Linked DNA regions of Homo sapiens: region 1 is linked to region 2. The links come from fine-mapping of genetic effects on gene expression. A gene starts in region 2. The other region holds a variant in brackets. All regions are shown on one strand. Distances are from middle to middle.

Region 1 (4,000 bases), 26 kb before region 2:
TCCCCCTCTGCCTACCAATTGAAGTGTAAACTTCTTGATTCCACATTTAAGGCCTGGTCACAATACAATCCTCAACATATTTTTCCAGCACTTTTAACATTTAACTCCCCAACATATCCCCTTTACAATCCAGCCTAAATGGACCCCTCACTCTATACTTCCCAGCTACTTTGCCTTTTTCACACCAGCCCCTCTACTTGTCTGAGTCTATGAAATTATGTTTACCTTATTTGTAAAAAGGTCTTTGGATTTCTACTGATTACTAAAGTAACACTTGGTTATACAAAATCCAAACGTTACAGACATTTATGGGTAGTTTCTCATTATACTATCCTTGAAAATTAACCACTGGTAATACTTCATACACATCTAGATTTCTTCAGTGCTATATATTATGTTCATGTGTGTATGTATGTATATTTTTTTATTAATAGAAACGAGATCATACTTTTTTAAAAAGCCTTTTCACTATGAAATGTATAGATAATGTTGTGTTTTATTTTTAGTCGATATATTTTGGATATACTTTCATAATACAGAGCTTTCCCTAGCCTTTTTTTTTTTTTTTTGAGATGGAGTCTTGCTCTGTCACCCAGGCTGAAGAGCGGTGGCGCTATCTTGGCTCACTGCAACCTCCGTCTCCTGGGTTCAAGTGATTCTCCTGCCTCAGACTCCCAAGTAGCTGGGACTACAGGCACCCGCCACCACACCCAGCTAATTTTTGTATTTTCAGTAGAGGTGGGGTTTCACCATATTGGCCAGGCTGGTTTTGAACTCCTGACCTTGTGATCTGCCTGCCTCGGCCTCCCAAAGTGCTGGGACTACAGGCGTCAGCCACCGTGCCCAGCCTCCCTAGCTTTTTAGTAACTGCAAAGTATTCCTTTGTATGGACTGACAATAATTTTATTTACCCATTATACATTTGAGTTGTTTACAGTTTGCCATTTCAAATAATCCTGCAATGAATTTCCTTTTATATTTATGATTTGTACAGAATAAATTCCTAGCAATTCTAAAAAGCATGTACATTTAAAATTTTGACCTGATTCTAAATTGCTCTATGAAAAGAATGTGCCAATTTACTCTCCCACTTAAACTGAGATTTTATTTCCTCACACTTTCATTATCAATGGGTATTATCTTTAATCTTTATCAAATAATATAAAAATCATGTTTTAATTTATATATCTTTAATTATAAATGAAATTCAATTATTTCCTATATGCACTGACTGTCTGCCTGCATTTGTTATTGCCTGTTCATGTCCTAAGCTATTTTTCTACTGGGTGGTGGCCCTTTTCTTATTCATTTATAAAAGCTCTTTTACAATTAGAAATTTTAATAGTATCATATGTGCAAATGGATTTGTAAGATCTTTTGCCTTTTATGGAACTGAAGGCTCCTCTGTTTGAAAAACTGTAAAATCAAAAACACCTTTCCACTGTATGGAAATGAACGTTTGATTAATGAGAAACTACAAAGTAAGCATTTGGGTCTTTATTATTCAGGTAACTACTTCTGCTTCAGAGTATTTACAATACCTTAGCTGGATTAGTTAAGCCATGATGGAGATCTGAATTCAGATCACATTTTATAATACTTTATTCTTTCTCATGGGTAAATCCTCCCTAACACCCTGAGAAAATTCATTAACAAATCTCAGATGTACTATAGAGCCTGTCCTTCAGTTAGTTTCAGAATTTACAAAACAGTTGTTTTCAGCAACTAATTA[T/AGATAT]GATTGGTGATCATAAATTATAACTGTCACACATTCAAGATGAAAGTTAATTTCATTTAACTTCTTTCTTTTCCTATTTTGTTCTTGTTCCTCCTTTGTTCCCCAACCACATTAAAAAATTTTTTTTTCAGGTCTTCAAGAAAGCAGCTTGGCCAGCTCATCACGTTGCTGTGCCTATATGAAGGCAATTAATAAAAAGTGCTTGTGAGGGTTTCTAAACCTAACTATCTTTGGTACTTATGTTAAAGTGAACTAAATATGGCCTGAGAAGGACTCCGTACTTCTATATTTGAGTCCTTGTGGACCAACTGCAATCTAGCTTAATAGGTAGACAAGACTGAAAACCAAATTTAGGAGTATGTGCCTTAACAATAGCTGAGACTTGGCCAATCCCAGCGGCAGTACTTCAACCATTCATACACTGCTGAGTCTTCAAACTGTGTTCAAATAAGGCAAATGCCGAGCTGTAACCAATCCAGCTGTTCTGTACCTCACTTCCGATTTCTGTACCTCATTTCCTTTTTATTGGCTATACATCTTCCACCACGTGGCTGCACTGGAGTCTCTGAATCTGCCGTGATTCTAGGGGCTGTGCGATACTGGAAATGTTCACTGCTCAATTAAACTCCTTTAAATTTAATTCAGCTGAACATTTTCTTTAAAAAAAAAAAACATTTTAATCTACCAGAAGTTAATTTTTGAAATATAATCAAACTAAACAATCTTTTCCTTATGTCCTCTCTTTTTGTTCGTGTTTGGCCATCAGTCAGGTTTATTGAAGTATTATTAACATACAATAAAATTCACCCATTTTTGCTATACAGAGAAGTTTGGACAAATGCACGGCTGTGCAATCTACCACTGCAACGAAAATATAGATTTCCATCACCCCAAAAGTTTCTCTGTGCCACTGGGCATTTAATACCTTCCCCTACCCCTAAGTCCGTAGCAACCAAATATATGTTTTCTGTCCCTACAGATTTGCCTCTTCCAGAATGTCATATAAATAGAATCACAGAGTATATAGCCTTTTGTGTCTGTCTTCTTTCACAGAGCACACTGAATTCAGATTCATCTATGTTGTTAGATGTATGATAGCTCTTTTATTGCTGGGTTGTATTTCATTGCATGGATATGCCACAGTTTATCCAATCAGCAGTGGAAGGATTTTTAGGCTGTTTGCAGTTCTTGCAATTATGAATAAAGCCACATAAACTTTTGCATACACATTTCTGTGTGAACATTAAGTGTTCATTTCTCTTGAGTAAATACCAAGGAATAGTATTTCTGGGTCGGATGGTAAGTACACGTTTACCTTTTAAAAACTACAGGTTTTCTAAAGTAACCACATCATTCTGGATTCACACCAGAAAAGTATGCAGGTTCCACTTGTTCCAAATCCTCAACAGCTTTTTTCATCACAATTTTTGTTTTGCTTTGTGGGGTCTTTTTGTTGTTGCCATTCAGGGTTTAGTGGAGTGTCACTGTGGTTTTAATTTACATTTCTCTAGTAACTAAAGATGCAGAGCATCTTTTCATATGATTATTTGCCATCCATATCTTTTCTTTGGTGAAATGTTTTAGCCATTTCTTCATTGGGTGGGCTGTATATTTATTGAGTTAGACTTCTTTAAATATTACTATTTTGGATACAAGACCTTTATCAGCGTAGTAGTTTGCAAAAATTTTCTCCCAGTCTGTGGCTTATCTTCTCATCTTCTTAACAGTGTCTTTTGAAGACAAAAATTGTAACTTTGAGAATGCCAATTTATCAGTTTTTTTTTGTTTCATGATTTGCTCGTGTTATTGTGTCATGTATTTAAAAATCTTGCCCAACCCAAGAACACAAACATTTTTCTCCTACATATTTTTTCACAAGTTTTATAATTTAGGTTTCAAATTTAGGTCCATAATCCATTTTGAATTTTTTTTTGGATAAGATAAGGGATATTGGTCTTTAGTTCTTTCTTGCAATGTCAGTAAGCTGCAAAGTGTTCCCTCTTGCATTTTCTGAAAGAATCTAGATCACTCCTTTCTTAAATGTTTGCTAAAATTTCCAGAGAAGCCTGGGAATTTAATTTCTTTAGCAGTGTGAGAGGAAAATAAATCTTCGGACCCCAAAATCACTAAGCTAAAGGGAAAAGTCAAGCTGGAACTGCTTAGGGCAAACCAGCCTCCCATTCTATTCAAAGTGATCCCTCTGAGGCTCACCTAAGACAAATGCATATCTGATTGCTTCCTCTCCCCTATTGCTTATGTGAAAATGCA
Region 2 (4,502 bases):
CGTAGTCCCAGCTACTCGGGAGGCTGAGGCAGGAGAATCTCTTGAACCCGGGAGGTGGAGGTTGCAGTGATAGGAGATCGCACCATTACACTCCAGCCTGGGTGACAGAGCAAGACTATGTCTCAAGAAAAAAAAATAATAATAATGAACATTTATTGAGCACTTAGAATGTATTTCTGATATATCAGCTCATTTAATCTTCACAACTACTATGAGGTTTATCATTGCCTCTATTTTACAGATATGGAAACTCAAGTAACTTGCCCCAAGTCATAGCGGACCCTGCAATCAAATGCAGCCAATTGGGTTCCATAACCTATGCCCTTAACAATCCCACACTGCCTTTTCAACTATACCATTACAACAAAATGTGGAAAGCGGTGACATAAAATAAAAACAGGGTGCTATGCGGGGAAAAAACATGAACAGCGTACTCAGTCTAGAAGAGCAAAAAAGACTTCCCCCGAGGATGTCATTTGAGCTTAACCCTGAGTGAAGAATAAGGTGGACAAAACAAGAGAGTTGCGGTGGAAACTCCAGGATTAGGAAAAGCCTGTAGAGGGCCCAAAGAAAAAAAAAAAAAAAAAAAAGCAGCTGCTGGAGCAAGAAAGTGAGTGCATGGAGGGGACTGGCAGGCGAAGCTGGAGAGATAGGCAAAGGCCAGTGAGGAATGGTCTTGGCAAGTCAGAGAATTCAAGCGTTATCCCAAAGGCAATGGGCACCACTACAGAGTAATAAGTCGGGGAGTGACATAATCAAATTTGCACTTTTGAAAAACAACTTTTGGGCCGGGCGCGGTGGCTCACTCCTGTAATCCTAGCGCTTTGGGAGGCCGAGGCGGGCGGGTCACGAGATCAGGAGTTCGAGGCCAGTCTGGCCAACATAGTAAAACCCCGTCTCTACTAAAAATACAAAAAATTAACCGGGCGTGGTGCCGGGCACCTGTAATCCCAGCTACTCCGGAGGTTGAGGCAAGAGAATCACTTGAACCTGAGAGGCGAAGGGTTGCACTGAGCCGCGAACGCGCCATTGCACTCCAGCCTGGGCGACAAAAGGAGACTCCGTCTCAAAAAAAAAAAAAAAAAAAAAAAAAAAGACAACTTTGGTTGTTGGAGGAAAAATTAATTCAATCTTGAAGGGTTTTGTCTTTGCTTGTGTGTTTTTAAACATCAGGTCCTAGAACAAGACTGGGGAAGGGCAAATGATAGTGGCCTGGCTCAGGGTGGAGATGGGAGAGAGGAGTTTAGAAGGGAGGCCAGGCAGAGACGCATATTTGGGAGGAGGCCGCAACAACCATCAGGGCACAATGAAATAGAGCAGGGAAAGCGCGTTGCCTGAGCACAGGGGAAGGTCCAGGAGTCATGGAGGCAACCTTCGGTGACTGCCGCTCTTCTCAGCCCTTCACAAGTGCAATATCGCCGGGAAGGAGGCAACTTTCTACACCACCTGCGGGCAGGGAGAGGCGGGTGGTGGACAAGAAACACCCACCAGAAGATAGTCCCGAACTTCATGTTTCTCCAGAGCTCCGTGAAGTCCTCGAAGCGTACACTGTCCGTCTCCTGGAAGCGGCTGAGCAGCGCCTCGCAGTCGGTCTGCAGGCCGGGAGGAGTCCCCATGGCACCCGAAGCCCGCACGCCTCCGAAGCCCGCACGCCTCTAACGGACTAGCCAGCGGTGGTCGCCCAGGAAACCAAGCCCGAACGGCCCGCCCCCTACGGCGTGCGCACACGCGCTCCGTGATGCATTATCCGGCACCTTTAGCTCCGCCTTTATCCGGGCTCTTGCCACCGGTCGTGTGCTTACTGCGCGTGCGTGAAAGCGTTCTGATGTTTTACTGGCTGAGATTGCTTTCACCCAGAGTGCTGAGATCCACCCTTCTTTGGAAGAGGTTTACGTCTAAAGTGTTGTGTTTGCTCACGAGCGGTTTTAGGTCTTCATTTTCCGCTAGGTTATGTAACTTGACTTTACCCTTACTAGCACTCTCCTTTAAACTGACCCTAGTGTGACATAAGTGAACTTTTGAGCTAGGAAAGAACAGTCCCAACCCCAACCCCACTCCCACTTGGGAAGAGAAGCTAAAGAAGGCTTGCTAGGAAACAAACTGCACTCATTCTCCTTCTGGTCATCGAGAACCCTAATACTCTGTACCCACATAATACGATGCTTAATGTGCGGCCCTCTCTTTGTAGCCCTGGCATTCTGCAACCACTCTTGAAAAGAAGAGCTGCATTTCATACCCTCTTGTAAACAGCCCTCCTCCTGCCCTGCCACGCATTCACCCCTGTGCTACATAGCACTTAGCAGAAAATACCTACTTGTTATATTCTTGTTATATTATTATTTGGATGAATTGCCTTTTTGTGTACACGCTGCCACCTAGCTTCCTTCCTCCAGGAGCTAGCTATGGAGTAACATTTTGAACTTTAGATCATTTCTCTGATTGAAAGGTAAGCTATCATTCTTTAGAAGAGGTATCCTGATATAATAGAAAAACATTGGGCTTTCTGTGTGTAAATGGAGTGTCAACTCACTTTACTTTTCTGATCCTTGACCTGTTTTTGTTTGTTTGTTTGTTTGTTTGGATTTGTTTGTTTTTTGTTTTGAGACGGAGTTTCGCTCTTGTTGCCCAGGCCGGAGTTCAGTGGCGCGGTCTCGGTTCACTGCAACTTCCGCCTCCCGAGTTCAAGCGATTCTCCTGCCTCAGCCTCCCGAGTAGCTGGGATTACAGGCATGCACCACTCCAACCGGATTTTGTTTTGTTTTGTTTTGTTTGTATTTTTAGTAGAGACAGGGTTTCACCATGTTGGCCAGGCTGGTCTCGAACTGCTAACCTCAGGTGATCCGCTCCCCTCGGCCTCCCAAAGTGTTGGGATTACAGACGTGAGCCACTGCACCCTGCCCTCTTGACCTGTTTTTTAAATGTTATGTAATATTTTATGTCACAGAAAAATTTATGCGATGTGTGAGATAAAAAGCATAGCAGTTAAACACCTGTACACCTTTCACCTGTGTAGGAACCAGAACATTACCAACGCCTTCACATCAATCTGCGATTTCCTCCTCTGACCTATTCCTTTGACTGTACCCTACTTTAATCACAGCTACTGGTTGGGCACGGTGGCTCACGCCTGAAATCCCAACACTTTGGGAGACAAAAGCAAGAGGATTGCTTAAGCACAAGAGTTGGAGACCAGCCTGGGAAACATGGTGAAAATTAGCCGGGCATGGTGGTGCACACCTGTAGTCCCAGCTACTCGGGAGGCTGAGGTGGGAGGATCATTTGAGCCTGGGAGATGGTGGTTACAGGAGACAGAGGTTGCAGTGGTGAGCCGAGATCGTGCCACTGCACTCCATCCTGGGCTACGGAGTGAGACCGAATCTCAAAAAATAAATAAATAACTACCTTGAATTTTGTTTCTCTTTCTCATGTATATATTTTATCACATATGTATGTATATTTAAACGGTATATTTTTTAGTTGTGGTTGGTTTTGAGTTTTATGAAAATGGTATTGCAACTGGCTGGGCGCAGTGGCTCACGCCTGTAATCCCAGCAATTTGGGAGGCTGAGGTGGGTGGATCACCAGGTCAAGAGTTCGAGACCAGCGTGACCAAAATAGTGAAACCCCGTCTCTAATAAAAACACAAAAATTAGCTAGGCGTAGTGGCGTGTGCCTGTAATCCCAGCTACTTGGGAGGCTGGGGCAGGAGAACCACTTGAACCTGGGAGGCAGAGGTTGCAGTGAGCCAAAATGCATTATTTCCCCCATGATAGAGTGGGGGAACCATTTGGGAAATGGTTCATTACAACAGATAATTTGAGAAGCACTGTTATACACCATTTCAGTCCACATTCCATTGGCCAGAACTCAGTCACATGGACCCATTCAGGTGCAAAGGTGGCTGAGAAACGTCATCACTAATTAGGCAACCTCTCCCCAACAATAGTTTCAATCGCTGGAAGAGGTGCACACGTCTTTGTTGGACCACGTATTAGCTCATTTCTGCTGCTATAACAAAATACCATAGAATAGGTAGCTTACAAACAACAGAAATTTATTTCTCACAGTTCTGGGAGGCTGGGAAATCTAAGATCAAGGTGCTGGCAGATTCCGTGCCTGGTGAGGGCTGCTCTCTGCTTTCAAGATGGCACCTTGTTGCCGTGTCCTCACATGGCATAATAGCGGAAGGACAAAAGAGGCCTAGCTAGTTCCCTCCAGCCCTTTTATAAAATCACTAATCCCATTCATGAGTCCTCATGACTTAATTACCTGCTAAGGCCCTACCTCTTAATGCTATCACATTGTTAATTAAGTTTCAACACATTGATTTTGGGAGACATTCAGACCAGAACAGACTGCCAACATGTCTGCTGCAATTTTATTCAGAAACTCTGAAAGTATTACCTTTCACTTTTAATTTACTGTCATCCATCTAAAAATTTATTTCTATGTATGGTATAAGGATCCTATTTCACTTTTTTCCATATGTATAACCATATGTA

Evidence for each region. PIP is the estimated chance that this variant, and not a neighbour inherited with it, causes the effect.
Region 1: its variant is fine-mapped to the expression of SNAPC1 in whole blood (INTERVAL, PIP 0.96).

The regions. Positions count from the first base shown.
Region 1 is chr14:61,785,800-61,789,799 of GRCh38, reverse strand. The region is part of intron 8 of SNAPC1 (small nuclear RNA activating complex polypeptide 1); the gene reads right to left. Among named protein-coding and RNA genes, the nearest start is that of SYT16, 25 kb to the left of the region's middle. The variant T/AGATAT (reference allele first, on the strand shown) is at 1,733.
Region 2 is chr14:61,759,575-61,764,076 of GRCh38, reverse strand. It overlaps SNAPC1 (small nuclear RNA activating complex polypeptide 1), which reads right to left and starts at 1,657. Exons shown (of 10, transcript NM_003082.4): 1 at 1,489-1,657. The coding sequence starts at 1,616. RefSeq lists enhancers at 687-1,430, 1,431-2,174, 2,242-2,331, 2,175-2,918, 2,919-3,663.